7 separate regions of the Homo sapiens genome follow, and regions 2, 3, 4, 5, 6 and 7 are each linked to region 1. The links come from fine-mapping of genetic effects on gene expression. A gene starts in region 1. Each other region holds a variant in brackets. All regions are shown on one strand. Distances are from middle to middle.

Region 1 (4,151 bases):
ACTCCAGCCTGGGCAACAAGAGCGAAACTCCATCACAAACCAATAACAGCAACAAGACGGATGATGGAGGAAGCATATATGTGACAATTTACAGTTCGGGAAATTCAGAGAAGTAGCTCCTCAACAGTGTCACCCGTCAGTAGAATACTTCCTTCCAGAATCAGTGTCAGGAAATGTCCAGGAAGCCAGGAACTGAGCCTACACATCCCGATGTCCCAAGTGCATGCGCATGTGTGGCTAGCCAATCCCTTGCCTTCCTGCCTCTGGGAAGATTATTAGGTCTTCCATTTGTTTTCAAGTAAGAAGCAAAAAAAAAAAAAAAAAAAGGAAAAACAGCTTGAGTTTCTTTCCATATCACAGCCTTCCAATGTGTTATTATTCAACACTGCAGTGTCAGATTTAGATTTTCCACCTCGAGGAATTTGGTTTAGCTTTAATTAGTTGCTGTGAATATTTCTGAGCCAACTCTGGAAAGCATTTATCTGGAAAATAGTTTCCACTAAAATATAAGCTGGATATAGGGTATCATTTTCCTAGGAGGGTTTGTATCAGTTAACAGTTATAAATTCTCTCCAGCCCTCTGGATGACTTTTGCCACAAGCCCATCATCGTCATATTGGTTAATTACTTATTAATTAAACACAATTCAAAATACTGTATTGAGGCATCTGCATCGCCATCTAAGCTCTAGCTTCAGGACTTCAGAGCGTGAAGATTTTTCGGAGAAAAGATAACGCTTACAGGTTATTCTCATACAGGCAACTGATGCATTTTTCATCCGGCAACTTTTCATAAAAACAAGCTGAAAAATACCAGACAAATGAAAAACAGACTTCAGCAGTTCCATGCTGCTTCCTGAGTAACTGAAGAATGTGCTTCTTGTGGTTAAAATGAGAGATCTGTTTAATATGGATCAAATAGCAACACTCCAGGCATTTTCATTGACATTTCACTGTGACTTTTTGAACTTAGGAGTGCGGATACGAAAACCTACTCTTTCTTTCTGCTGCGCGGAGCCTGCACAATCTGCAGAAAGATTGCAGAGCCGGGCCAGGCGAGGTAACAGGCTACGTGGGGTTCATGTTCTCTCTGGTTGTTCCCTCCCCGTTTGTACTTCATTTCCATTCACACGGCTGCACTTCCCAGTTTTCCAGGATCTCTCCTCTGAAACCAGGCAAGGGTTTGTTCCCAAATCCCACCCATTGCCTCTCCAGCCCCAGACTTGCTTACTGGACCACACATAGGTGGTGGGCATTGGTGACTTGTCCCTAGGGTCAGGGGACCAGAAACTTCCCAGAGGGGCTGGATGGAGCACGGCAGCACTCAGGGCACAATGGAGAGCGGATTCAAAGGGCAAAGGAGCCGAGGAAAGCCCCTCTGCCCGAGCCTCCCCAGCGCCGGCCGGGCTCCGCTCCGGAGCAGCCCCGCCGTCTGGCAGAGACATGCTGTTTTGTTTAAATCCTCCACATTCTTTGCCATTTCCCCATTGGCCGGATGGGGCTACCCTCCCCGCCGCGGCCGCTGCTGATGTCAGCCTCGCTCGCGCTCGCTCCTCCCGCACCCACCTCCCGGCCCCAGGCACACTGCATCGGCGCGGACGCTCCGGCCCCGGCGAGGTGGCTGCAAACTCGCGGGCACGCACGGCGCCCGGGGAGCCGAGGGACTCGGGGGAGGGGACGCGCGCGGAAGGCGCCAGCTTCCTCCCGCCCGCCCCTGGCAGCCGCGAGCCGAGGTTGGAGGCGCCCGGGGCCCCAGCCGGGCAGAGCCGAGCGGCGGCGGCGGCGGCGGCTTCCCTTTTCTCCCCGAGCCGAGCCCCGGAGCGGCGCGGGGACCGGCCCTAAAAAGAGCAGGAAATCTTGTTTACCGCCCGCGGAGAGAAGCCGATCGAGCCTTTGTCTGGAAAGTCAGCATCTCCGGCTCCGGCTGCAATGTGTTCCTGGTGACATTAGCATCGGGCAGACCCGCCGGAGGAGGGGGGTCGCCAGGTTCCCGTCTGCTTTCGGAGGCGGATCGAGCGGGTGACTTTTGTGCATTCGTTTTAATTTTTGGAAATCTCTCTTTTTTCCTCCCTCGCTCGCTGCCGGGCATGTCCTGATCTGGCGGCCGCTCCTACCACCCTGGGCAGCCGAGCAGAGTCGTCCCCAGCGGGTCTCCCTCCCTGCCTCCCTGACTTTGCAACACCGCGTTCCGGGAGGACCGGCCTCGGCGAGGGAGGAGGCGGGGGAGCTGCGAACACCCAGACCCAAACCCTGACATGCTCTGGGGCGGAGAGGAGGAAGCCAGGAGCTGAGCGCGCCGCGGGGGCTGCTTCGCCCTCCGGCTCCGAGCGCCGGGCTCCGGGCGCCCTGCCCTGCGCCTGGGCAGCAGCCTTGCTGGTCTTGGGGGCGCCCCCCGCTTCCCGCCCCGGGGGTCCGCGGCCGGCAGGACCATGCTGCTGAAAGAGTACCGGATCTGCATGCCGCTCACCGTAGACGAGGTAAGCGCCGCGCCCGGCCCGGCCTCGCCCGCTCCGGGACCCCCGCCGCTACCGCCGCCTCCTGGCCGGCGAGCCCCGGGCGAGCGGCAGGAAACCCAGGTGGACGTTACCCCGCAAACCCGAAGCCTGGAGGAGAGGAGGGAGGGGATTTGCGGCTTCCACTTGTCACCCCAGCGGGGGAGGGCGGCGCTGGGTGGGGCGGCGGACTCCGGGTGGGCTTTTCGGGGGCGCCCAGAATCCAGACTGTTGGGGATCACTATGAGCCAAAGGGAGTGGGTGCGCCCCCTCCCTCCAAATAAGAAAATGAATAAACCAAACCCAAGAGCCCCCGGCGCGCGCTGTAGCTGGGGTTTGGGGGGCATCCCGTCCTGGCCGTGGGCCCAGCCTCCCCTCCCCGCCCTCTGCGGTCAGGTAGGGGTGCGAGGAGGAGCCCTGCGCCCTCGGGATCTGCACGCCCCGAGCCCCGCGGGAGGAACCTCTGAGCCCTTAGGGGAGGTCCCTGCGGGGCCCGACTTCTCGCCGTCGCCGCGGGCTTGGGCGCAGCTCCCGGCACGTCCGCCCTTCGAGGCTCGGGACCCGGCTGTGTCCTTTCGCAAACCGCCTGGCTCGGAAACTTTCTGCGTCTCTTGTTTCTTCCGCCGCGGGGAGCGGCGCGCGAGCCGGGAGCGGCGGGGGCTGCGACGCGGCCACAGGAGGGCGCTCCAGCACGTGGTGCCGGGGCCGCGGCTGCCGGCTGGGGGCGCCGGGCGCGGGGCGGGGGCTCGTCCTCCAAGCGCGGCTCTGCTGTCCTTCTCCCGATCCTGCGAAGCCGCGAGCTCCAGTATTCAGGAAGTGGTGACTCAGATAGGATTATTCCGGCCCCGGCTTCCCTTTCTTCCCCTTCTTCCTCCCCACCTTTGTGGTGATTCCACGACTGCTGAGCGTCTCTGTCCAGGGACAGCGAGGGAGCCCAAAGCCAAGCAAGGCAACGTGAAACTCACTAGTGTGGTTTGGTGTGGCAACACACATGAAATCAGCCACCCAGACCGTCTTTATATTTAAATCTGGTGCCTCGAAACTATCAGATATGTTTTTGAGCCACTACTTGGTGAGAGGGGCGATGTGCTTTGGGAGAGAAAAAGATGCATAACTGAGAACATGGCTGAGCTCACAGGGGCTGTCCGTATTTGCCATCTGGACCAAGGGTTAAGGTAAGACCCAAGTACAATCCAAGACAAGATCAAAGTAGCTGCAAGTTTACAAAACGCATCACGGGGACACAGGCTGCCAAGGAGGGAGAGATCAGCTTCCACCAGAATGAACAACCGAGTTTTGGAGTTCGTTGGCATTTGAGGAGGTAGCATTTAAGCAGGGTCTGGAAGGGTGGATGCCAGGTGGGTAGACAGAGATTCGAGTTGCATATGACCTTGTAAGTGGAGAAGCAGGACATAGCTTTGTGGAGAAAGAGAAGGGCAAATGAATGGGACTGGTTAATAGGAGTCTTTCCAGAAAAGGTGGAGATTGTCCCACCTTGTGGGCAGTTGAGCTAGAGTAATTCAGCTGGGAGGCATGGATCCCTCTACTCCATATCCTAATGACCTTGTTTTTTGATATGAGTTTGGATTCTAGGAGCAATGTTGGGACTGCATGAAATACACAGAAAATTGCAGGTGATAATCAAGAAAAGAACCAGTTC
Region 2 (4,151 bases), 24 kb after region 1:
TTGTTGATGTTGAGAGTTGTCTCCGCTGCTTTACCACACATTTTGAACTCGAATAAGAAAATCGCTTGAATTTGCTTTTTGTCTAACATCATTTCCATAGTCTAAAATAAAATAAACAGCAAGTAATAAGTCATTAGCAAAAAAAGTGAAAGAATGTGCATTAAAATGATGTATAACATAACCACATTTATTTAAGAATGTATTCCAATATCAAATGGCAAATTCCAACAGTGCAAAAACTTACCCCTGAAAACAGGCATAGTCACTTTCAAACTTGATTTTTCTTTCATTTTACTCTACCTTTTCATTTGATGAAACACCTTTGCATTTTATCTCCCTGAGCCAAAGTACCTGTAAGTTGCCCGGAGTTGGGGTTGGTGCAATACTGTGGAAGAGTGTGGACACGGAAGACCTAGTCAGTCCTTGCTGTGTGATATCAATGATTTGATTGAGAAAGACTCATTTTCCTGGGCCTCACCTGTCAATTTTCTCAACTGTCAAATGCCCTCTTTTGGCCTGTATTAGGGGCTGATCTCATGCAATACGGAGCCTACTCTGCAAATACAAGGGGTCATGGTCATTGTCCATTTGTGGGGAGTGTGAAAACACCTGGTGATCATGATGGGCTAGGTACTGTTTCACACTTTAAAATGCCTTTATTTTAGGGGGACCCTCTAGTGCCATAGGTATTTTGGAGTCTCTGCTTTCCAAATGGCCTATGGGAAATCCTGAGATGTCCGTGGGATCTAACTTTGCCCAGTGGGAATGTTGTGTCATAGTCATAAAGGCTTAAGGATTAGTTTATTTCCAGCCCTGCAGGGGCTATAAATTGCTACTTTAAATTTCATTCCAGCACCCTGATGTTTATGTTGCTATGGTGGTGTGTCTCTTGCTCGGGTGACAAGATTGCCATTGGAAATAGGCCAAAATAACAGCCTAACAGGTGGCTGTGCTTTGGGAAGTCATTTGCAAAACTATTTTGCGAAGAAGTCTGGTGCAAATAAGTCACATGACTGTGCCCTTAACTGTAGTTTATAGTTTAGCATTTTTTTAAAACGCATTCCTCCCCCTTTCCGTTTTATATATAGACTTTTTTCCTCTTTCAAGTAGTGCCGTGCTGATTTCCTGTAGTAACACAAGGAAAGATTTCAGCTCATTTTATTTAGCAGTGGATGTCCTTTCCTTATTTTTTGTAACCAGAGCCCTCTTTCTAAAAATAACCCTTCTTTTCCTAATGTGATTCTTCTTATAGCTGATGTACTCTATTTAAATGAAAGGCCTCTTTTTAACATGCCCATTTTAATCGATATATATTTATTACATATAACTATATATAATAAAATACATATATAAATATATAATAAAAGTAGATTTCCCTGTAGGGTCTAATCCTTCGTGAATGTGGTAGCAGAAATTGTTCGTTACGCTTTCACCTGCCAATTATGATTGTTTTCTTTCTTTCTGTTTTTTTTTGGAGATGGTGTCTCACTCTGTCATGTCACCCAGGCTGGGGTGCGGTGGTGCCAACTCGGCTCACTGCATCACTGCAACCTCCACCTCCCGGGTTCAGGCAATTCTCCTGCCTCAGCCTCCCGAGTAGCTGGGATTACAAGCATGCACCACCACACCCAGCTAATTTTTGTATTTTTAGTAGAGACGGGGTTTCACCATATTGGCCAGGCTGGTCTCAAACTCCTGACCTCAAGTGATCCGCCCGCCCTGGTCTCCCAAAATGCTGGGATTACAGGCGTGAGCCACCGCGCCTGGCCAGTTTTCTTTCTTTTGAGATAAAATCACGGAAAGAACCTGAGTATTAAACCAGTTAAACTTCCTACCCACTTAAGAGTCCTTTCTATGATAATCTTGGATGGCAATCATCTTGCCTTTGGGCTTAATACCAGCCATCGCTTGGGTGTGGGCTCTTTTTGGTAATACAACCTCTATGATTTTCCACTTTGATTTGTTGGAAGATGCTTTCTCATGTTTAGTTGGTATCTGACTCCTTAGAGCTTTCAGGATCGTTTCTACCACTATAGTGACAAACACAAGCCCTTTCCACATGCTGACTCTTTAAACATTTAAAGAAATCTATAATGTTGGCTGGGTGCGGTGGCTCATGCCTGTAATCCCAGCATTTTGGGAGGCCGAGGCAGGTGGATCATGAGGTCAGGAGTTCAAGACCAGCCTGGCCAAGATGGTGAAACCCCATCTCCACTAAAAATACAAAAATTAGCCGGGCCTGGTGGTGGGCGCCTGTAATCCCAGATACTCAGGAGGCTGAGGCAGAGAATTGTTTGAACCCAGGAGGCGGAGGTTGCAGTTAGCCGGGATTGCGCCACTGCACTCAAGCCTAGAAGACAGAGTGAGACTCTACCTCAAAGAAAAAAA[A/G]AAAAGAAAAGAAAAGAAATCTAGATTGTTCTCCTTTGATCTTCTCTTCCACTGGCTTGCTACTCTCAATTCCTTCAGATTGAATTTATGAAATGCTTTTGTCTCCCTCACCATTCCTGTGGTTCCTCTTTCTTATTGCCCTTTAGAAAATATTGAACGCAATGCGTTACAGCAGAGGTCAACTAACTTTTTCTGCAAACCGCCAGATAGCAATATTTTAGACTTGCAAGCCGTAAGGTCTCTGTTGCAACTACTCAACTCTGACCTCGTAACATGAAAGCAGGCATAGGGCAACATGTAAATGAATAGGCGTGGCTGTGTTCCAGTAACATTTTATTTGTGGACACTGAAATTTGAATTTCATAAAATTTTCACATGCCACGAAATATTATGTGCCTTTTGCTTTTTCTTTTCCAACCATTTAAAAATGCAAAACCCATTTGTAGTTGGAGAGGCGTACAAAAACAGGCTATGGGCTGCATTTGGCCCATGGGCCGTTATTTACTGATCTTAGATATTGGAGGACCAGTGCTGAAACCACTGGAACTTCAGCTTTAACACTAGCACTGTCATTTTCAGAAGCCGCATCAAACTGCTGGCTGCTTCTGACAAGGTGGTCAGTTACACTTGGTCTTCTCCACCCCCCATCCCCCGCCCCTCCGCCATTTCCTGACAAAGCTGTCTCTCTAACCTGTGGGTATGTGTTCTGCCGAAAACAAGCAGCCATACCACAGCAGCCGTAACCATAGGACTTTGAAACAAATGCAATGAATGGCATCCACTAGTTTCAAGTTTGACCACATGTTTTTATTGTTTGTTTGTTTGTTTTTTGAGTTGGAGTCTCGCTTTGTCGCCCAGGCTGGAGTGCAGTGGCGCAATCGCTGTTCACTGCAATCTTCCCCTCCCTGGATCAAGTGATTCTCCTGCCTCAGCCTCCCAAGTAGCTGGGATTACAGGTGCCCACCACCATGCCCGGCTAATTTTTGTGTTTTTAGTAGAGACAGAGTTTCACCATGTTGGCCAGACTAGTCCGGAACGCCTGACCTCAAGTGATCTGCCCACCTTGGCCTCCCAAAGTGCTGGGATTACAGGCGTGAGCCACCGCGCCTAGCCTGACCACGTTTTTGATTCTTGCTTCTGTTATATCTGTATTAACCGTTCTTCTTAGCTTCGTGGCAGATGTGATAAGCATGCCTTTGTGTCTTTCTCTAAGTCACTGACTTTTCAGTAACATCTAAATCATAAAACATAGGTCTGGCCAGGTGAAGTGCTTGTGCCTGTAATCCCAAGGGGCCAAGGCGGGAGGATTGCTTTAGTCCAGGAGTTGGAGACTAGCCTGGGCAACACAGTGGACCTCATCTCTACAAAAAAAAAAAAAAAAAAAAAAAGTCATGACTGCTTTCCTTTGTTGCAGAAACCAGTAGGTATTTGGGTGTAGAAATGAAACCCTCAATTATATTCATAAGGCTAAAAATGAACTATTCCCTACTTCCTCATTTGTTTTGATTTTTAAAATAAGGTTCTCGTTAGATATTTTGAGAAACAGTTTAAGATTATAATTTTGTATGCAGAGGAGAAAATTTAGAAAATGGTGAAGCCAACTTTTTTAGTGTATAAACATTTAATCATAATTATATATGTGTCCGTGTGGACATTTATTTACCAAGGCTTTGCTTTAAGGGGAAGGGAGAACACAGAGGGCCAACATTTATGGAACATTCTAGTGGGCCAGGCCCAATGTGTTAATCATCTCATTTCAATTT
Region 3 (4,151 bases), 340 kb after region 1:
CTGGCTACAGATTGGAAGAAGGCAACAAAGAAGCAGGGAGACCAGGAAGCAATTATTGCGGTCCAAGAAAGAGATGGGACTGGGAATGGGGGCGGGGCCAGTGGAGAAGGAGAGAGGTAGACAGGTTGAGCTATATTTAGAAGATAAAATCCACAGTACTTGGCAACCTACTCCAGTCCCACTGCTTTATATTCCTATCATGTGCCAATGATACCTCAATCTATATCACCCGCCTGGGCTCTGCCAGGAACTCCAGCATCATATGGGATACAGCTTATTTGGCATCTCACTTAACACAGCCAAAATAGAAATTTGGGTATGGCTTCTCCAAACAACCCTTGCAAATGTGCTACTCCCCTGCCTAGACTTCCCCATTTCAGTAGGGAACACCCCAATCCACCTGGTCACTCAAGGTAAATGTGCAGAACATGCCTTTGATTCCTCCCTCCCTCTCACCATCACACTCAACCCATCTGCCACCCTGTCAACTCTCCCTCCAAATCACATCCTGAATTGATCCACTTTTCCCTATCTCCGCTATCACCACCTACCACAAGCCACTATCTCTTGTATCCTCAAAATTGGTATTTCTGCTTCTGCTTTTTATCCCCTATGAGCTATTCTCTGCTTGAGAGCCAGCGTGATCCTTTCAAAACAGAAATCAGACCTTAGCTTAAAACTTTTTTTTTTTTTTTTTTTTTTTTTTTTTAGGCCAGGCGCAGTGGCTCACGCCTGTAATCCCATTACTTTGGGAGGCTGAGGCAGGGAGATCACGAGGTCAGGAGATCAAGACCATCCTGGCCAACATGGTCTTGATCTCCTGACCTCGTGCTCATGGTCTACTAAAAATGCAAAAATTAGCTGGGTGTGGTGGCAGATGCCTGTAATCCCAGCTCCTTGGGAGGCTGAGGCAGGAGACTCGCTTGAACCTGGGAGGCGGAGGTTGCAGTGAGCCGAGATCGCGCCACTGCGCTCCAGCCTGGGTGACGGAGCAAGGCTCCATCTCAAAAAAACCAAACAAACAAACATAAAATAACAATTGTTAGTGAGGATATGGAGAAACTGGAACCCTTGTGTACTTCTGACGGAAATGTAAAATTGTGCAGCTGCTGTGCAAAACAGCATGGTGTTTCCTCAAAAAATTAAAAACAGAATCACTGTGTGATCCAGCTATTCTACTTCTGGTTATATAGCAAAAAAAAACAAAGCACGATCTCAAGGGGATATTTGTATACCCATGTTCATAGCAGCGTTATTCACAATAGCCAAGAGGAAGCAATCCAACTGTCCATGAATGGAAGAATGGAGGAGCAAAATGTGGTATATCCATTCAACGGAATATTAGTCAGTCTTTAAAAGGAAGGAAATTCTGACACATGCTACAACAGGATGAACCTTGAAGATGTTGTGCTAAGTGAAATAAGCCAGACATAAAAGGACAAATATTTAATGATTCCATTTATCTGAGCTATGGTATTTAAATTCAGAGAGACAGAAAGTAGAATAGTGATTACCAGGGGCTGCAGAAGGGGGAATGGAGAGTTATTGTTTAATGGGTTCAGTCTGGGAAGATGAAAATGTTCCAGAGATGAATGGTGTGGTTGCAACACAGTGTGAATGTACTTCATGCCATAGAACTGCACACTTAAAAATGGTTAAAAGGCCGGGTCTGGTGACTCACGCCTGTAATCCCAGCACTTGGAGAGACCCAGGTGGGTGGATCACTTGAGGTCAGGGGTTCGAGACCATCCTGGCCAATATGGCAAAACCCTGTCTCTAGTAAAAATACAAAAATTAGCTGGACGTGGTGGCGGGCACCTGTAATCCCAGCTACTCGGGAGGCTGAGGCACAAGAATTGCTTGAACCTGGGAGGAGGAGGTTGCAGTGAGCCGAGATAGTGCCATTGCACTGCAGCCTGGGTGGCAGAGTGAGACTCAGTCTCAAAAAAAAAAAGAAGGTTAAGAGCCTGGTGCCGTGGCTCACGCTTGTAATCCCAGCTACTGGGAAGGCCAAGGCAGGAGGATCACTTGAGCCCAGGAGTTCAAGACCAGCCTGGACAACGTGGCAAGACCCTGTCTCTT[TAA/T]AAAAAAAAAAAACAAAAAAACAAACAAACAAAAAAAACAGGCCAGGTGCGGCGGCTCATGCCTGTAATCCCAGGTGTGGAAGTCTTTGGGAGGCCGAGGCGGGCGGATCACGAGGTCAGGAGATCGAGACTATCCTGGCCAACATGGTGAAACCCGTGTCTTTACTAAAAATACAAAAAACAAAACAAAACAAAAGTTGCTAAAAAGGTTAAAATGGCAATTTTATGTTACGTACATTTTAGCACAATAAAAAAATTTAAAATATACTCATTGGGTTTTGGCACCACCGGGAGGGCGCTAACATTAGGTTGAAATGTATGCCCCAAAGGATGACAAAGATCTTAGATTCTTCCTCTCTCTCTCTGATTTTTGCTGGGCAGAAAACTTCTTCAGGGGCATATGCCTAAATTCTGGTAATATTGTTCAATTATTTGCTATGGTCTGAACATTTACCGCAAAGGTTTTTTGAGTTTCTGAAACCGAAAAACATATCTTAGAGTATCTCAGATCTTATTTAAGAATCACCACAACTTTCAAATAATATAGAGATTTGGTGGCATACAAATATCTACCATTCACTTTCTTTGCTGAATGGTCCTTCTACGAATATTCCTTTGATGAAGCACTTACTGTACCCCATTCATGCAATGTACACGTCACCAGCTGTCAACCTTCCATGACAAATTTCTAATGGGTAACATCCTCCCTTTTGAATGTGAGCAGGCTTCCCTTCCTACCCATTATATATTTAGACTCATTCATTGTATATTTATCATCTGATTCTATTCTAGGAATTGAATGTGAGAGGCAATATCTTCCCCCAGTCTTCACAGCTAGGCAGCCAAGCAGCATAAACATGACAAACAATCCAGAGAGAACATCCACAACACACAGTAAAATGCACAGGGTCACAGCTGCCTTTGAAGACCAGCCTTAAATGTCTCTAACCAGTGAGGGATAGCCAGACCCTCTTCTTGCTCATTGACCTTGATGGATGCACATTGGAAGTGGAACGCCTCCTGACCCGTTCCTAGCTTAGGCTTGGTTGCAGAAGACTCCTAGTTCCCTTATTATAGCTGGTGTCCTTTCCAGAAAGGATTGTAATCTCCTTTAATAGTTTACCAAACTTAGACTCAAATTTACAGACGAATATGCAAGCACAGTTCCAGCTTTCTCAACCAGGAAGTCTTACTTTCCCTTAATGGATCAAGTCCACGTTCTATTTATTATCCTAGCTTGCAACGTTAAGTGTGACTTATTCAACAAACGTGTATTAAGCTCTTTGTATGGATCACAGACAATTGCTGGTGCCATGAATACGAAAATGTGAAGTGGCCGGGCGCGGTGGCTCAGGCCTGTAATCCCAGCACTTTGGGAGGCTGAGGCGGGTGGATCACCTGAGGTCAGGAGTTCGAGACCAACCTGGCCAACATGGTGAAACCCCGTCTCTACTAAAAATACAAAAATTAGCCAGGTGTGGGGTGGGTGCCTCTAATCCCAGCTACTCGGGAGGCTGAGACAGGAGAATCGCTTGAACCCGGGGGGCAGAGGTTGCAGGTTGCAGAGAGCCGAGATTGTGCCATTGCACTCCAGCCTTCGTGACAAGAGTGAACCTCTGTCTCAAAAAAGAAAAAAAAAGGCTGGGCGCAGTGGCTCACGCCTGTAATCCCAGCACTTTGGGAGGCCGAGGCGGGCGAATCACGAGGTCAGGGGATCGAGACCATCCTGGCTAACAAGGTGAAACCCTGTCTCTACTAAAAATACAAACAAGTCAGCCGGGCATGGTGGCGGGCGCCTGTAGTCCCAGCTCAGGAGGCTGAGGCAGGGGAATGGCGTGAACCCGGGGCGCAGAGCTTGCAGTGAGCCGAGATTGCGCCACTGCACTCCAGCCTGGGCTACAGTGCAAGACTCCGCCTCAAAAAAGAAAAAAGAAAGAAAGAAAGAAAAGCCTTGCTACTGATGGTGCCCTCATCACCTCTCACCTGGTAACTACAATAACTGCGATAGACTTCTAGGGAATCTCCCTGTTGGTGCCCCAGGCGCACTTGCTACTGAGAATGCTCTTA
Region 4 (4,151 bases), 260 kb after region 1:
GTGCTTTGGCGTGGCTCTGCCTGGACTTCAGGGAGTTCCCTCCTGATTCAGTAGGAAGTCTTGATACAAATATAGAATATTAATGAAGAAATCAAGTCTCATTTCTAGTCAACGTGCCTGACTCATTTCCCTGTGCTCTGTGCCCCCAAAGAACCTCCACTAGAAAGCTTCCTTTCATTCACACAGACATTCGAGGAGCTTTTCCTTCATGCTTCACAGGGTCACTCATGGGCACGTCCGTACCTCCTTCCCTGGGTCCTAGAGTATTCTTCCCTGGATGCAGCTTGGCCAAGGAGATGAGTGGTAAAGAGTCCAGTAATTATTCATCCAATAAATATTTATGGAGTCCTCACTGAGTGTCACATACAATGTTAAGATGGGGATGTCTGGGCATGGTGCCTCACGCCTGTAATCCCAGCACTTTGGGAGGCCAAGGCAGGCGGCTCACTTGAGTTCAGGAGTTCGAGACCAGCCTGATCAACATGGCAAAAACTCTACTAAAAATACAAAAATTAGCCGGCAGGGTGGTCAGCTACTCGGGAGGCTGACGCATGAGAATCGCTTGAACCTGGGAAGTGGAGGCTGCAATGAGCTGAGATCACAACAGAGTGAGAAACTGTCTCAAAAAAAAACAGCAATGAGCCAAAGAGATGCTTAGGGTCCCTCCCTTCAGGACACTTCCAATCTAACAAATACCACGCAGAGAGTATTTGGCGAACAGTAGAGAAATAGTCACACAGATACATATGGAGTTCAGAGTCACACGTGCAGGAAGGCAGGTACGGGGAGAGACTGTGATAAGGAAACTGAATTTAAGAGGATAGGATCAGGAGACATGCTATGGAAAAAATGACATTTCAGGCCGGGCGCAGTGCCTCACGCCTGTAATCCCAGCATTTTGGGAGGCCGAGGCAGGCAGATCACCTGAGGTCAGGAGTTTGAGACCAGCCTGGCCAACAGAATGAAACCCCAACTCTACTAAAAATATAAAAATTGCCCGGGCATGGTGGCATGCGCCTTTAGTCCCGGCTACTCAGAAGACTGAGGCAGGAGAATCACTTGAAGTCCCAGCGACTCAGGAGGCTGAGGTTGAACCCAGGAGGCGGTGGTTACAGTGAGCCGAGATGGCACCACTGCAATCCAGCCTGGGCAACAGAGACTCGGTCTCAAAAAAAATAATAATAAATAATAAATGAAGCTGAGGTGTCATAGGATCTAAATTATGCTTTTAAAATATTGTTCTGGATGGAGAATGGACTGGAGAAGAACAGAGTCAGGAGACCACCAAGGTCACTATTGTGATTTATATTGTCGGTTACTTAGGTTCTGTCGTGGCTTGCGCTAGAGGGCTGGTGGCAGAGATGGACAGGAGCAGATGGTTTGGAGGTATATTTTGAAGATGAGTTGACAGGGATTGCTCATGGATTGGATGTGGGGATGAGGTTGAAGGAGGAATTGGGATGGCCTTAAGGATTCTGGCTTGGGCAACTGATAGATGGGGGTGCTGCTTACTGAAATGGGAAGGTGAGAAGAGAGGTATACGTTGGAGAAAGATGAGTGGATTTTGTGATGTCAGTGAGGCATCTAACACAGACAGAAATGAGTCTGGAGCTTAGGTGAGAGATCTGGGAGACCAATTTGAGAGTATTTGGCGAATAGGAGATTTAAAAATCCTGGGGATGGATGAGAGGAAGAAAGCATGAAATATAAATGGGAAAGGGGTTCAAGTCTGAGCCTTCAAGGATGGCAGCATATGGAGATCAGGTTGAATCTAAAAGAATCAGGAGTCTAAAAGAATTGGCCAGAAAGTTAGGAGGAAAACACAGAAATGCACCAAGGAATGCAAGTTTCAAGAGGAGGAGAGTGACCAGAGGTGCTGAATGCTGCCAAGAGATCGAGTAGGAAGAGAATGGAAAACTGTCCGCTGGAGCAGTTCTCAACTGGGGGTGATTATTGCCTCACGAGGATGCTTGGCAATGCCTATAGACATTCTTGGTTGTCAAAACATAGGAGGTGCTACTGGTATCTAGAGTGTAGAGGCCAGGGATACTGCTAAAATCCTCTACAGCACAGA[A/C]AGCCCCTCACAACAAAGAATTATCTGGCTCCAGCTGGGCGCGGTGGCTCACGCCTATAATCCCAGCACTTTGGGAGGCCGAGGCAGGTGAATCACAAGGTCAGGAGTTCAAGACCAGCCTGGCCAACATGGTGAAACCTCGTTTCTTCTAAAAATTCAAAAAATTAGCCGGCCATGGTGGTAGGTGCCTGTAATTCCATCTACTCGTGAGGCTGAGGCAGGAGAATCACTTGAACCCAGGAGGCCGAGATTGCGCTACTGCACTCCAGCCCAGGCGACAGTGCGAGACTCCGTTTCAAAAAAAAAAAAAAAAAAAAAAGCATTATCTGGCTCCAAATGTCCATAGTGCCAAGGCTGGGAAGCCTTGTTCTACAGGAAGAGGTGATTGAAGATGGATGGAACTCTGGATTCAGCTTTGACGCTCAGGGCCACCCCTGGCCCGCCCTGGAGTCTTACGGTTACTAAATGGATGCGGGAGAAGGGGCCCCATAGGGCTGAGCCCTGCACATTCATCATCCATTGTGTGACCTCCCAGGGGATCTGCTGGCATCTGGAACAGGTGGAATTCCTCCTCCGTGGACCTGGCAGCCGGACCACAAAGGGCTATAGGTACCACTGGGAGCCTGCAATAAAATCTTAGAAAAAGCATTCCCCCAGGGGCGACTCCCTCGTAACCCCAGCCCCATCACCTTCAACAGGCCAGAATACAGACTGCAGTCTGAACCCACCCAAAGGAAGAGGGGTGAGTTTCCTGGGCTGTTTTGGTGGTTGTGTCTACTGTAAACACACCAGGGACTGGGAATAAGAGGAACAACCGATTCAGAAGGCAAACCATTTCCAAACAAATGTCTAACTGGCACACTGTAGATAATTAACACCCTCCACCCCACCACAGGAGTTTCCTTCTAAAATGAAATCTGACCTTGTTCTTTGCTTGAAACCCCTCACTGGCCCTCCTTTAGAGTTCAGCTCACACAGGACTCCCCCTTTCTGAGTTTTCCTGGGCATGCCCCCACCACTGCTGGTCTGGAGGCAGCAAAGTTCTGGTCCGTGGCTTCTAGATCATGCTAGGTTATGCTAGCTCATCACTATGGCATGAGCTCTGCGAAGACAAGAGCTGGCTCTTTCCCAGCCGCTGCCACAGCACCAGTGCTTAGCAGGCGCTCACTCAATGGTTGCTGAATGAATGAGTGAAGGCAAGGGACTTTGCTTTTTTTCTTCCAGCAGTGACAATTTCAGAGCAACCGCTATCAAAGAAAATGAATTCGTTGCCATTAAGCAAGCAGTTGTGAATCAGAGTTCCTTTTTTTTTTTAATCGGAGGCATCCAGCTCCATGGGCCTTTTCTTCCCATCCATCTTTGTAAGTTGACGATGTCAGCGTCCTAAATAGAAACGCTCTTTATGTGAGGAAGCCGGATGCTGATGGGCCGAATCTGTTCCTGGATTTTTTTGATGCTGATGAACCCAGACCAGGGTTATCTGGGTTGCTCCTCTCCACTCAGCTACTGTTGCACACACACACGGCCATCCAGGCCAAAGGAGGGGATGAAAGCACTTTCCTTTCTTTTTCCATTTCTCCCTGGAAACCTTTGAGCCACACAATCAAGACTGCCTCTCTCATGAAGGTGACCAGAGCTTGGAGTTTTCCACTGGGTGCCCTCTGCCCGATGGCCCTCGTGCCATCGCCACTAACCGGGGACTCAGAAGCATGCTTTGGGGATTCAGGACCAGCTGATAGCCCAGCTCTGTGCTTTCCTTATTCTCATTTTTGCTGTGTTGCTGTTTCCTGTTAGGGCCTGAACTTCAGCTCTCAAAAACCTCTTAGCTTCAAGTTTGTTCTCATAGTCATTAATGGACTCTGCAGGGCAGTGCCGTATTGTGGGGTGGGGGTGGGGGAGGAATTAGTGTGATTTTTTTCAGGCAGAGAGAGCCCCTCCATTAGTCACACAGACCACTGAGACCCTGCCCGCCCATAAGAGTCATAAAGCTGTTTGCACCATGTCACATGTAAAATGACCATCATCAACACCAAAGCAGGAAAAGGGGTGAAGCCAAAAGCTGAGCAGGTTGGACTGG
Region 5 (4,151 bases), 87 kb after region 1:
GGAGCTAGGAAAGTTATTTATGTAATGATTATTTCACAATTGGAATTTTTTTTTTTTTTTTTTTTTGAGATGGAGTTTCACTCTTGTTGCCCAGGCTGGAGTGCAATGGCGTGATATCGGCTCACCGCAACCTCCGCCTCCTGGGTTCAAGCGATTCTCCTGCCTCAGCCTCCCAAGTAGCTGGGATTACAGGCATGGGCCGCTACGCCCGGCTAATTTTGTATTTTTAGTAGAGGCGGGGTTTCTGCATGTTGGTTAGGTTGGTCTCGAACTCCCGACGTCAGTTGATCCACCCACTTCAGCCTCCCAAAGTGCTAGGATTACAGGCGTGAGCCGCCGCCCCCGGCAACAATTGGAAATTTTTTAAAAACAAAGACTATTTAGCTTGAGCTCAACTAAAGACTTTGGTTTGCATATTATAGACAAATACATAAATTGTGTTTATATAGACTGTGTACATATATAATTATATACTGATGAGATATAGCATTTGTATTTTTCAAACCACAAACATCCTGTAGTAATTCAGACTTATAAATACTTCTGCATAGCAAGTAACAATTTATAATAGCTAAACAGGAATGAATATGGATGGTGTTTCTTTGTGCCTCTGATTGGTGGGTAGGGGGGATTGAAAGCTTGATTTTGATCAGTTTTTTTTTAAACTTATGTGCATTATTGATTAATCACTTAATTGAATTGGTGGGATATATTTTCATACATGCAGTTGTGGCAATATTGATTGAGCTTTCTCTGAGCCCAAACTACCAATTCTTACAAGTGAAACAGGATGTCATCTCCGTGTTGTAATCATTTTATACTTCACATAGTACATTGGAAGTCTGAGGTAGCAAATTCGGCTTCCGGAAGTCCTTGACTTGGGGTCAAAGAGCATCGCTGATATCAGGAGAAGCTGCCTGAATGTGAATTCGGTAGTAAAAATGGAAAGATATTTTATGTGTTTGGCTAGGCGCAGTGCCTCACACCTGTAATCCCAGCACCTTGGGAGGCTGAGGTGGGCAGATAGCTTGAGCTCAGGAGTTTGAGACTGGCGCTGTGGGCAACATGGCAAAAACCTATCTCTACAAAAAAATACAAAAATTAGCTGGGCATGGTGGTGCACACCTGTGGTTCCGGCGGCTACTTGGGAGGCTGAGGTGGGAGGATCGTTTAAGCCCGAAAGGCAGAGCTTGCAGCACCACTGCACTCCAGTGTGAGTGACAGAGTGAGACCCCATTTCAAAAAAGAAAAAAAAAAGAGCCAGGTGTGGTGGCTCATGCCTGTAACCCCAGCACTTTGGGAGGCCAAGGTGGGCAGATCACTTGAGGTCAAGAGTTCGAGACCAGTCTGGCCAACACAGTGAAACCTCATCTGTACTAAAAATACAAAATTGGCCAGGTACAGTGGCTCGTGCCTGTAATCCCAGCTATTCTGGAGGCTGAGGCAGGAGAATCGCTTGAACCCGGGAGGCAGAGGTTGCAGTGAGCAGAGATCACGCCACTGCACTCCAGCCTGGGCGACAGAACGAGACTCCATCTCAATTAAAAAAAAAAAAATGATATTTTCTGTGTTCATCTAAGTAGAGAAATAAGTATAGACTGCCTTATGTTCATTTGCTTCCCAGTGTTCCTTGGTGGCTGGATTATTCATCTAAGTGAGATGTAAGATCTTTTGAGCATCTAACATAATAGTTATTCATAAAGACATTTAGGCTGATGGCTTTCTCAGAACGTCCTGCTGTTCATGATGGACTTCATCTATATTTCAATGAATTTCTAAATGGAGGAAACAGAACATTTTTCCTTTGATTAATTCATTGGTTTTCAGTCCTCAAGGACCCATAGGCTGGCGAACTCTAAGAGGAAGTCACAAAAGGAAGAATGGTAAATTGGAATTGGAACTGTGGAACTCACCCCGTAAAAATCTTTCAACACTGTCCTGAGTTCAACATCTGAAATACAGTGGACCAGGAGAAGATTGATGGAAGCTAATTTAAAAAGCTAATTTAAAATTGCACCAAAAAAAGCACAGCGTTATGAATTTAATAAAGTTCGTAGGGTGTTTTGGACCACGATTTTACAACTCTCTCACTTTTTTTTTTTTTGAGACAGAGTCTCACTCTGTCACCCAGGCTGGAGTGCAGTGGTGCAATCTCCTCTCACCGCAATGTCTGCCTCTCGGGTCCAAGCAATTCTCCTGTCTCAGCCTCCTGAGTAGCTGGGACTACAGGCATGCACCACCAGGCC[T/C]GATTGATTTTTGAATTTTATTAGAGATGGGGTTTCACTATGTTGGCCAGGCAGGTCTCAAACTCCTGACCTCAGGTGATCCACCCGCCTTGGTCTCCCAAAGTGCTGGGATTACAGGCGTGAGCCACCACACCCGGCCACAACTCTCACTTTTAATTGACTGTGCCCCAGAATCAAGCACTTTGGCTAGCAAATGATGGCTAGTTAGATCACAGAGGTGTGTGTTGCATTCTGTGTCTGTTCACTGTGAAATCGGGATTTTAAGAGTGTATGTTGTTGAACATACACCTGTCTTTGAGTGATCGGTCCCCAGAGGCCACCTCTAAGGTGAAGATTTGGGGAGGTAATTGTGGGAAGCCCCAGGAGGAGCAGAGGAAAATGAGAAAGGGGACGAAGGGAATGTAATAGAATGTGTGTTGGGAGAGGGTTTCCTTATGAGCCAGTGCAGAGGAAAGTCTTGAAATGCACTAAGGAAATACAGTCTGTGCCGTGATGGTAGCACCGATGTGGAATCCCATAAGCAGCTGCTTGAAAAAGACTTGGTGGCAGACATAACTCTTTTTGCCTTTTAAGTGCTCCGGGAGATTTCACATGCCAATGTTGAATTGTCCCCAACTTGGGTTCAGGGTGCCCAGGAACTAGCAAAATCAGCTTTTTTGTGGTAGGATCTTCATAGGATCCAGGAGCTGTCACCCACGAATGACAGAGCCCCTGCACTGGATAGCCTTTCTCCAATCTGTATAAGGTGGAATAGGGAAATGAGGCTCCTCTCTGATGTTCGGGGCTTTAGCTGGGCTGGGTTCTGAGTCCTCTGTGCCTAGTTCCCCTTGGGAAGCACTGGAGACCTTGAACTGGAAATTCTCTTCCTGGGATCAACCAAATACTCCCAAAACTTCGTGGAAGCTTAGCTCCTTGTGCCTTTTGTCAGGTTTCCCTAGAAGTCAAGGGATTCTCATGGAGATGATGTATGGGATGGGGGCTAGAGGGCTGGGAGGATGGTAGGGCGGGGGTAAATCTAAACTTCAGGTGTCTTGGGAGTCCATGACTTGCATCACAGAGCTGGTTTCCCCCCCGTCAGGCAAGGTCGGCCTTTATTTATTTATTTATTTATTTATTTTAGAGACAGAGTCTCCCTCTGTCACCCAGGCTAGAGTGCAGTGGTGCCATCATAGTTCACTGCAGCCTTGAACTTCTGGGCTCCAGCGATCCCCCTACCTTAGCCTCCTGAGTAGCTGGGACTACAGGCACACGCCCAAATGCATAACTAATTTTTAAAGTTTCTGTAGAGATGGTGGGGTGGGGGGGTGGGGGGGGGCGCGTCTCACGATGTTGTCCAGTCTGGTCTCAAACTCCTGGCCTCAATTGATCCTACTGTCTTGACCTCCCAAAGCACTGGAATTTACAGGTGTGAGCCACTGGGCTGGCCAAAGTCAGCCTTTTGTACCCCTCTCAATGTCAGCCATTGATTGGTTGTGGGCCTCCCACAGGTGGAGAGGTTCCCATTTGTTCAAACGCAATTTACAAACAAGGGGGCAGATGGGACCCATTAGTAGCTGAAACTCACAGCAACCAGTGCCTAGTAAAGGATTCATGCAGGGCCCTCCCACACGACCCAAAACAGCAAAGAGAAAGGGCCAGGTGTTGGCCTTTTTCTAACTCATCCCTTTTAACACAGTAAGTTCAGCAGTCCTCTAAGAGTCCCACTTCAAAGTACCCCTCTTGCCTTCCGAATTCAGTGTTGTTAGCCCTTTTGCTTGAAAAACCCCCACTCTTGGACACAGAGGAAATAGGAGTCAGATGTCTGCACCTTCTGCACCTGTGGTTTGAACAGGACCCTCTGGGAGTCGCAGGAGGAGTGCTTGGCCCTGGTGCTTGGCAGGAGGTTGGGCTGGGAGATGATGATTG
Region 6 (4,151 bases), 63 kb after region 1:
AGAAAACTCCAGGCCATGCGCATTTAATTTGATTGTAATCCTGCCAGAGATCCACCTGCTTTGCTCCCATCCGTTTCCCTTGGCCTGTCCTGTAGAAAGGGACTGCAATTGAGCACTTTTTTAAATTAAAAAAATGACCTGCACTCTCCACAAAATACAGGTCCAAATGGCAGTAGCTTATTGGTCATCAGTTTCTCCTAGGAAACCTGGGCCACAAGTTTCTGGTTGGTTTCGGACACACAGTAGGTGCTGAATTAATTAAAGGTGTTTCTTTAATTCAGCCCAGAAGCATCTGATTTGCTTAGGAAATTGATTAGGCATATATTACCTGGATGATGTCAATTTCTATGTAACCATTTCTCTCCTGTGTAATTGATGAGCCTCCTAATGTTGATTTTATTTTATTTTACCAAGCACTGTATTTAGTTAATAAAAAATACAGAATAGGATTCAAAACAGCTGTGTTTGCTATTGGCATGGCCGTCACCCTCCTAATACCTGTGCATGTCATAATAGACTACATTTGCAGAAACAAAAGGTTAGGAATAAAAAGATGACTTTTGTCCCTCCAGCTGCCAGTGACAACCCACAGCCTCAGCTTATGGTATTTATTTAATCTTGTATCTGTGATAGGGCTCTGAGACACTTCTGTGAAGCAGATGTTTGAAGATCTGACAATTATGGAAGAAAATTTCTCATAGAAAAAGATATGTTCTCCAGCCTTGGGCGGGGGCCTGACATTACTCTTCCACATTTCACTCATTCATTTATTGAAAAATGAAAAATTATATATATTTATAATATACCAGGTGATATTTTGATATGTGAATACATTGTTGAATTATTATGTTAAGCTAATTAACATATCTCTCACCTTACATACTTATTTTTTGTTGATGAGATGGACATTTCTTTTTTAAGTATGCTTAAATGTGTTCACGGATTGTGTGAAATTTTTGGCATCCCGTTTCTTGATATACCACCTTTTGCCACATTTCTTGTTTATATAGTATGTATCTCAGCCGGTGATGAATCAAGGAAAAAGATAAAGAAAAACAAACAAACAAACAAAAAAGCAAACAAACAAGTTAAAACAAACCCAAAACCTTCTTTCCCAGTAGGCAGTAATTTGGGATGTAAAATGTATGAGGTAGGCAGGAGGAAGATGAAAAGTCTGTCTGAAATGAGAACTGTCTGTTGGCTTAATTCAGGTGATCACAGATTGTCTGTAGCCTTGAGCAAAGCCTAGAGAATAGTGAGGCTAGTAAAACACTAGCCCTTGGGCTCAAAATTTAAGATGGCACCAAAAAACTAAAAATCAGGGTAAATAATATTTTGATGCAATATTTTTAAAAAATAAAAATTAATGCACAATACTCTACAATGAACAAAATATCAAAATGCTAAAGACAGGCTCTAACCCCGCACTGGCAAACGCAACCTCACTTGTCTCCTTCTAATCCTGGCCTTGACCCCTAATAACAAAAAGTAAGATCATCTAGACCTCAAAAGGAAAAGTTGCTAGTCCCTCTAAGCCTTCGTTTGCTCTGGGTTTGAATCCAAACTCTGTTATGACCAACTTAGTGAAATCAGGCAAATTACTCAACCTCTGTAACTTCCTTTTGAAAAATGGAGATGTTTTCTCTTGCAAGACTTTTTATTTATTTATTTATTTATTTATTTATTTATTTATTTATTTATTTATTTGAGACAGGGTCTCACTCCATTGCCCAGGCTGGAGTGCAGTGGTGCCATCATGGCTCACTGCAGTCTCTACCTCTCCAAGCTTGGGTAATCCTCCCACCTTAGTCTCCCAAGTAGCTGGGACTACAGGCATGCACCGTCATGCCTGGCTGATTTTTTTTTTGAAAAAAAATTTTTTTTATAGGGATAGGGGTCTTGCCATGTTACCCAGGCTGGTCTCTTAACTCCTGGGCTCAAGAAATCTGCCCACCTCAGCCTCCCAAAGTGCTAGGATTACAGACGTGAGCCATCACGCCTAACCTCTTGCAGGACTTTTGGGGTGGTTTAAAAATTACGCCTGTGTAGCACTGGGAACATTATGACACCCAATAAATACCAAATAAACAACAGCTTTAAATATTATAATTCATAATGATTCACAGAGTATTAAGATCCCCAGGCGATGCAACCAGGTAGTACCTAAGTGTATCAGTCTTGGGTGCATCTGTCAGGGTTAA[C/T]CTGGCTTTGTTTTTAACTTTACAGGACATATCAGAGTATAGCTATTGTGCCTGTGCTTTGAACACTCAAACATCCGCTCAACTGCTAAGTAACTGATTTCCTGTTTAGTCACAGCTCCTTGTCTGGGACCAGCCACTGGCAGCAAATTGTCATCTTCTGTATCTCCCTCTCAAAGCAACTCAGCCTTCTGAAGACGTGTAGAAGTTAGGTCTCGCAGGCTTGTATTTATTAAGCCCCCCCCCGCCACCCATCAGTCCCCAGTTATTTTGAGTGTCTCAAACGCATTTCCCACACCTGATGATTCATCTGAGGACGACTCACCCTTGTTGTCACTGACACTGTCCACAGCCCAGAGCTCAGCCTCTGATTTGCTCGGCAGAGATGGGGCTATGTACATATCGTGTGAGACGGAAGCTAACATAAGCAGAGGAGAAATCACGGAAGCAAAGTGAAGTGGGAATCCAGTTAATACTTGGAACAGAAAACTGGAAAGCAGCTCATTCATTCTCTCCGATTGTAAAAGGCGGATGGAAACAACACTTTTGTCAGCCTTTCTTCTAATCCGATCACAGCTGTAAAGACCATAAAGCCAAGCCCCGACGTCAATTATTCTTCTCCCTGTTCCTAAGAATGTGAAATTAGATGGGGAAAAGTGACAGAAGAGTGTCACTAAAATAACTTATTACACTTTGAGGGTCTTAGTCGTCATTAATAGTTGTTACTTTTTGAATATTCATCAGTGCGCCCTGCTGTTCGGCAAGAGAGGCTGTATGAAGTAGGAACTGCACACGCCTGGCTTCAGTCATGTATGCCTTGGATTTAAGCTCTTCTTTTCCACTTAATTAGTTAACAGGAACTTACTGAGCTGGGTGCAAAATGATACAGAAGAATAGGAGAATGGGATTGTAACCCCTGAAGCGTTTGTGATTTAGTTGAGTAGAATAAACTCTGCTGAGCCCAAGCTGAGCCTCAGCCTCATGCACCTGCTGTATTTCCACATTCTTTCATTTCTGCCCCAGAAATGTTGCTTGAATCTGGTTTCTCCTCTTTAACCATCTAAACTTTTACTATTGCTTTAGGACTGCCTCTCCTCATTTATTGCTATGTTGATTGCACTGCCCTGCCAAACCATATTGGAGCTGGATCAGGGGAAAATAAGCATATATATATATATATATATATATATATATATATATATATATATGCATGAAAATATCCTCCCATATTGTGGACCAAGTGGAAAAGTTAATGAAGCTCTACAATGAAAAAAAAAGTTGACTATGAGTAAAGTCTCATGTTGTCCAATCTGTAATCCTATTATTGTCAACCCTCGTAAGCCCGCCCAGTGGATGAGGTGGTGGGAGATGACGAGGGTGGGATGGGCATTCTGCAGCCAGTGGGGAAGAAGGCAGGGCCCTAAAACAAACAAGAACAAGCATATCTTTATTTAGAATTTGGATGTATTTTCATCGTGAATTTCCTTTGCATTCATTTTGATTAAAAAAAAATGCATTATGGCTGGGCGTGGTGGCTCACGCCTGTAATCCCAGCATATTGGGAGGCTGAGGCAAGTGGATCACTTGAGCCCAGGAGTTTGAGACCAGCCTGGCCAACGTGGCAAAACCCTGTCTCTACCAAAAATACAAAAATATATATATATATTAGCTAGGCATGGTGGTGTGCACCTGTAGTCCCAGCTACTTTGGAGGATGAGGCAGGAGAATTGCTTGAACCAGGAGACGAAGGGTTGCAGTGAGCTGGGATTGCATCACTGCACTACAGCCTGGGCAACAGAGCAAGACTCTGTCCCAGAAAAACTAAAAAAAATGCATTAAAATAATATTTATCTGTATTGCTGAGGTTTGAGGCACCCTCTTAAATTTTACACCTAGGCAATACCTCCAGCTCTCACACTAATCCAGGCTCTGGTCTATTACAAAAGTCCCCGC
Region 7 (4,151 bases), 170 kb after region 1:
CCTAGCTCTACTAAAAATACAAAAATTAACCAGGTGTGGTGGCATGCCTGTAGTCCCAGCTACTCTGGAGGCTGAGGCATGAGAATTGCTTGAACCCAGGAGGTGGAGGTTGCAGCGAGCTGAGATTGCATCACTGCATTCCAGCCTGGGTGACAGAGCAAGACTCTGTCTCAAAATAAATAACATAAAATATGGGTCTCTCTATCCATTTATTCATTTATTTTTATTTTTTTACCAAAATATATAAGCTGCTGCCCATGCTATGTTTGAAAGATGGCTCCTTATCTAGTAATAGCTGGTCAAGTTACTTGACTATGTGAATATTAGACTGTATACATAGTCTATACATATATATATACACACACATACACAGACGGAGAGACAGAAACACCTGCTGGGCATCACACACCGTTCTAGGTGCTGGGGTTGCAATAGTGAACAGAGCAAACATCCCTGCCCTGGTGGGACTTGCATTCCACTCGGGAGTGACAGTGCACAATAGCCATAATAAAGAACAGTATATTGGCCAGGTGCGGTGGCTCACCCCTATAATCCCAGCACTTTGGGAGCCCGAGGTGGGTGGATCAAGACCATCCTGGCTAACATGATGAAACGCCATCTCTAGGAAAAATACAAAAAATTAACCGGGAGTGGTGTCCCGCGCCTGTAGTCCCAGCTACTCGGGAGGCTGAGGCAGGAGAATCACTTGAACCTGGGAGGTGGAGGTCATGCCACTGCACTCCAGCCTGGGTGACAAAGTGAGACTCCATCTCAAAAACAAAAACAAAAACAAAAACAAAAACAAAACAGTATATCGTCTAGAATATATACTTTTATATAGTCTGTATACTTATGTATATTACATATTATTTATATAGGGAGACTATATATGTATATATATATATATATATATTTAGAAGGTGATAAGTGTTATGGAAAATAATAGAGCACATGGGGTGCTTCCTTCCAACCTTTCAGTCCATGCTATCCTATTCTGTCCCCATCTGAGTACTTAAGGACTTGTGAGGGACTCTCATGCTACCGGGCCCCTCTTCCCTGTGCTCCTGTAGGAACTCATAGAAACAGAATGTTTAGGCCTGGTTGGGATCTCAGAGGTTTTCCAGGAGGCTTTCCACCTGGGTTCTGCCTCACTGCTGATGGATGATGGTGTGTCCTGTGTCGCCTTGCCAGGGGCTTCTCAGCACACTGTCCACATAACCCTGATGCTGTCCAAGCTGAGCCTTCCAGGAACCTGCAGGAGGCAGGCTCCTTTTCCCAGAATCCTGACACAAACTGTCTTGTTAAGCAGGGAGGTCGGGGGTGGGGCCCGTGAGTCCAAGTTCAAGGAACTTGGTTTCTGGCCAGTCCCTGCCGGGGAGGCCCCGGCAGCCTTGCCTCCCACAGCTGATAACTCTGGTCCCGAAACTGCTCACTTCCCTACTGCCATATAAACAATTACATTAAGAGCACAAGTAAAAGACCAGCCAGAACAATCACTTAGAAGAGTAACTAAATGAATCAGAGCAGCTGGAGAAGATATTTTAAGACCCCAGAAATCACTGCACATAGAACTGGATGGGGGCAATTGATTATGAATCAAACAGATGTCAATTGCCAGTTTTAGTACAAGAAGGAAACAAAAGGTCAGTATATTCCTCCTGGACTATCTTGTGAGAAATGAGGATATGAAGGTAGCAGAGTTCTATTTAAAATGAGCTGCAGTCATTTCAGCATAATCTCAGTGCAGAACATGGCAGGTTTTAGGTACGCTGTTGAGAAGAAAATTCCAGGACTGTCTTTTCTGCTGGGAATGTTCAAGTTCTGGTAAAGGCCAGGTGCACTGGCTCATGCCTGTAATCCCAGCATTTCAGGAGGCCGAGATGGGAGGATTGCTTGAGCCCAGGAGTTTGATTCCAGTCTGGGCAACATAGTGAGACCCCATCTCTACCAGAAAATTTAAAAATTAGCTGGGTGTGGTGGTGCATGCCTTTAGTCGCAACTACCAGGGAGGCCAAGGCAGGAGGATCACTTAAGCCCAGGAAGTCAAGGCTGCAGTGAGATACGATCATGCCACTGTACTCCAGCCTGGGCAACAGAGCGAGACCCTGTCTCAAAAGAGAAAAAGAACAAAATAAAATTTCTAGTTAAGACCACCGTAATTCTGACCCCTGTTGAGAAAATGAAATTAGACTCTATTTAGACACGTTTGGCCTAATGATGTTCAAAACCTCCTGGAGCCAAAGCCCAAGTGAGCATACATTGCAATGTGAGATCAGGTACCAGGGGGAGTTTTGAATTTTGTGATCATAGGGATCGTAAAGTACCAGAAGCTTCTAATGGAGGGATGATTTAGGTTCTGCTCCAGAAGCTCTTTATGAAGTAGGTAAACACCCATAACCTGAGACCAGTTCAGATTATGCCTGCCCCTGAACCTTCTTATTAAATCAGTTGTGATTTCGGGAACCTTGGGGAATTTATGACATGAGAGATGATCTGCCAGGGTTCAAAACCTTGTTGCTGCTGATGCTTTGGG[C/G]TGGATCTTTATTTGCTGTGGTGGTGGGGGGCGGCTATCCTGTGCATCATAGGAGGCTGAGCCGCACCCTGGGCCTCTCTCTGCTCAGTAGATGCCAGTAGCACTGCCCACCCCACCTCGCCTCTGTTGAGACAACCGAAAATGTCCAGACATTGCCAGGTGTCTCCTGCAGGAGGCAAAATCTCCCTCTAGTGAGAACTCCTGTTCTAGGGTGACCAACCATCCCAGTTTGCCTGGAACTGAGGGATTTTCTGGCAGGTGGGACTTTCAGTGTTAAAACCAGGGAAGTCCCAGGCAAACCAGATGAGTTGTCCACTTGGCTGTGTCATTGATATGTTCTATTTTATACCAACGTTTAAAAGTAAGAACCCGGGCTGGCCATGGTAGCTCATGCCTGTAATCCCAACACTTTGGGAGGCCAAGGCGGGTGGATCACTTGAGGTCAAGAGTTCGAGACCAGCCTGGCCAACATGGTGAAACTTTGTCTCTACTAAAAATACAAAAATAAGCCTGGCGTGGTGGCATGCACCTGTAATCCCAGCTACATGGTAGGCTGAGGCTGGAGAATCGCTTGGACCTGGGAGATGGAGGTTGCAGTGAGCCGAGATTGTGCCACTGCCCTCCAGCCTGGGCGACAGAGCAAGCCTCTGTCTCAAATAAATAAATAAAGTGAGTAAGAAACCAAAGCTTTTGAAAAGTCTGTCTTTGGGAGGCATTGACAAGGCATCTGGGGGAATATGATGCTGCTTGTGGTATCATTTTGCCCCTCTTTTTCCTCAATGTCTCTAAAGCCTGAGCCCTGGTGAGATGGGCCATTGGAGGTTTGATCCTAGCCCATAGACCAAGGAGACTCGATTCAAACTTGCTGCCTTTCTAATAGAGAGGCTCTTGTTTGACACTTAGAGTGAGCATGAGTGACAGACTTTTTCTTGGAATTGTAGGCTGTGTGACAGTATACATCATGAAAGTGACAGCAACAGTGGGGACTAATTTAATTCCATTTTCCTTTGCAGGCCCTGATAAATCATTGCTGCAGGGAAAAATAAATTTTACTTTCTCAGACAAATGATTGGAATAATGATGTGCTGTGAGGAAATCGGGGGCTGAGAGAAGATCTGTTGGTGGGCTTAAAAGTATTTAAATAGCGCATCATGGAACTTGTTGCAAATACCTCTCGCGTCTGGCCTGGAAAATACCAGAAGGAACCTCCTTTCCAGACTGATTAGAAGAGTTCAGGCCGGGCGCGGTGGTTCATGCCAGTAATCCCAGCACTTTAGGAGGCCGAGGCGGGCGGATCACCTGAGGTCAGGAGTTCAAGACCAGCCTGGTCAACATGGCGAAACCCTGTCTCTATAGCTTGAACCCAGGAGACGGAGGTTGCAGTGAGCCAAGATTGCGCCACTGCACTCTCGTGTGGGGATAGAGCGAGACGTCTCCCAAAAAAGGAAGAAGAGTTCCATAAAATATCAGCTATCTTGACTAAATGATCGTGGTTTTTTAGGCCATCTCAATGGAAAAGGTCATTGATTATCGTGCTGCATATCCTATATAAGTTGGTGGCTGAAACAGCTAAAATAGATTCTAGAATCTGGGGTCCTGAGGGACCATTTACAAATAG

What was found.
Region 2: its variant is fine-mapped to the expression of PITPNC1 in whole blood (TOPMed, PIP above 0.99).
Region 3: its variant is fine-mapped to the expression of PITPNC1 in whole blood (INTERVAL, PIP 0.97).
Region 4: its variant is fine-mapped to the expression of PITPNC1 in esophagus muscle (GTEx, PIP above 0.99).
Region 5: its variant is fine-mapped to the expression of PITPNC1 in whole blood (INTERVAL, PIP 0.99).
Region 6: its variant is fine-mapped to the expression of PITPNC1 in whole blood (TOPMed, PIP above 0.99).
Region 7: its variant is fine-mapped to the expression of PITPNC1 in whole blood (INTERVAL, PIP above 0.99).

Annotation. Positions count from the first base shown.
Region 1 is chr17:67,375,727-67,379,877 of GRCh38, forward strand. PITPNC1 (phosphatidylinositol transfer protein cytoplasmic 1) reads left to right here and starts at 1,555. Exons shown (of 9, transcript NM_012417.4): 1 at 1,555-2,476. The coding sequence starts at 2,429. RefSeq lists an enhancer at 1,361-2,054 and silencers at 1,440-1,559, 1,610-1,859, 2,210-2,629, 2,640-2,939, 3,050-3,409.
Region 2 is chr17:67,399,466-67,403,616 of GRCh38, forward strand. The region is part of intron 1 of PITPNC1 (phosphatidylinositol transfer protein cytoplasmic 1); the gene reads left to right. Among named protein-coding and RNA genes, the nearest start is that of PITPNC1, 24 kb to the left of the region's middle. RefSeq lists a silencer at 2,688-2,982. The variant A/G (reference allele first, on the strand shown) is at 2,389.
Region 3 is chr17:67,712,037-67,716,187 of GRCh38, forward strand. The region is part of intron 1 of LOC101928045 (a long non-coding RNA gene); the gene reads right to left. Among named protein-coding and RNA genes, the nearest start is that of NOL11, 3.8 kb to the right of the region's middle. The variant TAA/T (reference allele first, on the strand shown) is at 2,083.
Region 4 is chr17:67,633,911-67,638,061 of GRCh38, forward strand. All of the region lies in intron 6 of PITPNC1 (phosphatidylinositol transfer protein cytoplasmic 1), which reads left to right. Among named protein-coding and RNA genes, the nearest start is that of NOL11, 82 kb to the right of the region's middle. The variant A/C (reference allele first, on the strand shown) is at 2,075.
Region 5 is chr17:67,462,654-67,466,804 of GRCh38, forward strand. The region is part of intron 1 of PITPNC1 (phosphatidylinositol transfer protein cytoplasmic 1); the gene reads left to right. Among named protein-coding and RNA genes, the nearest start is that of MIR548AA2, 6.8 kb to the right of the region's middle. The variant T/C (reference allele first, on the strand shown) is at 2,247.
Region 6 is chr17:67,438,843-67,442,993 of GRCh38, forward strand. The region is part of intron 1 of PITPNC1 (phosphatidylinositol transfer protein cytoplasmic 1); the gene reads left to right. It overlaps LOC124904046 (a long non-coding RNA gene), which reads right to left. Exons shown (of 3, transcript XR_007065881.1): 3 at 1-2,826. Among named protein-coding and RNA genes, the nearest start is that of MIR548AA2, 31 kb to the right of the region's middle. The variant C/T (reference allele first, on the strand shown) is at 2,202.
Region 7 is chr17:67,545,404-67,549,554 of GRCh38, forward strand. All of the region lies in intron 2 of PITPNC1 (phosphatidylinositol transfer protein cytoplasmic 1), which reads left to right. Among named protein-coding and RNA genes, the nearest start is that of MIR548D2, 76 kb to the left of the region's middle. The variant C/G (reference allele first, on the strand shown) is at 2,534.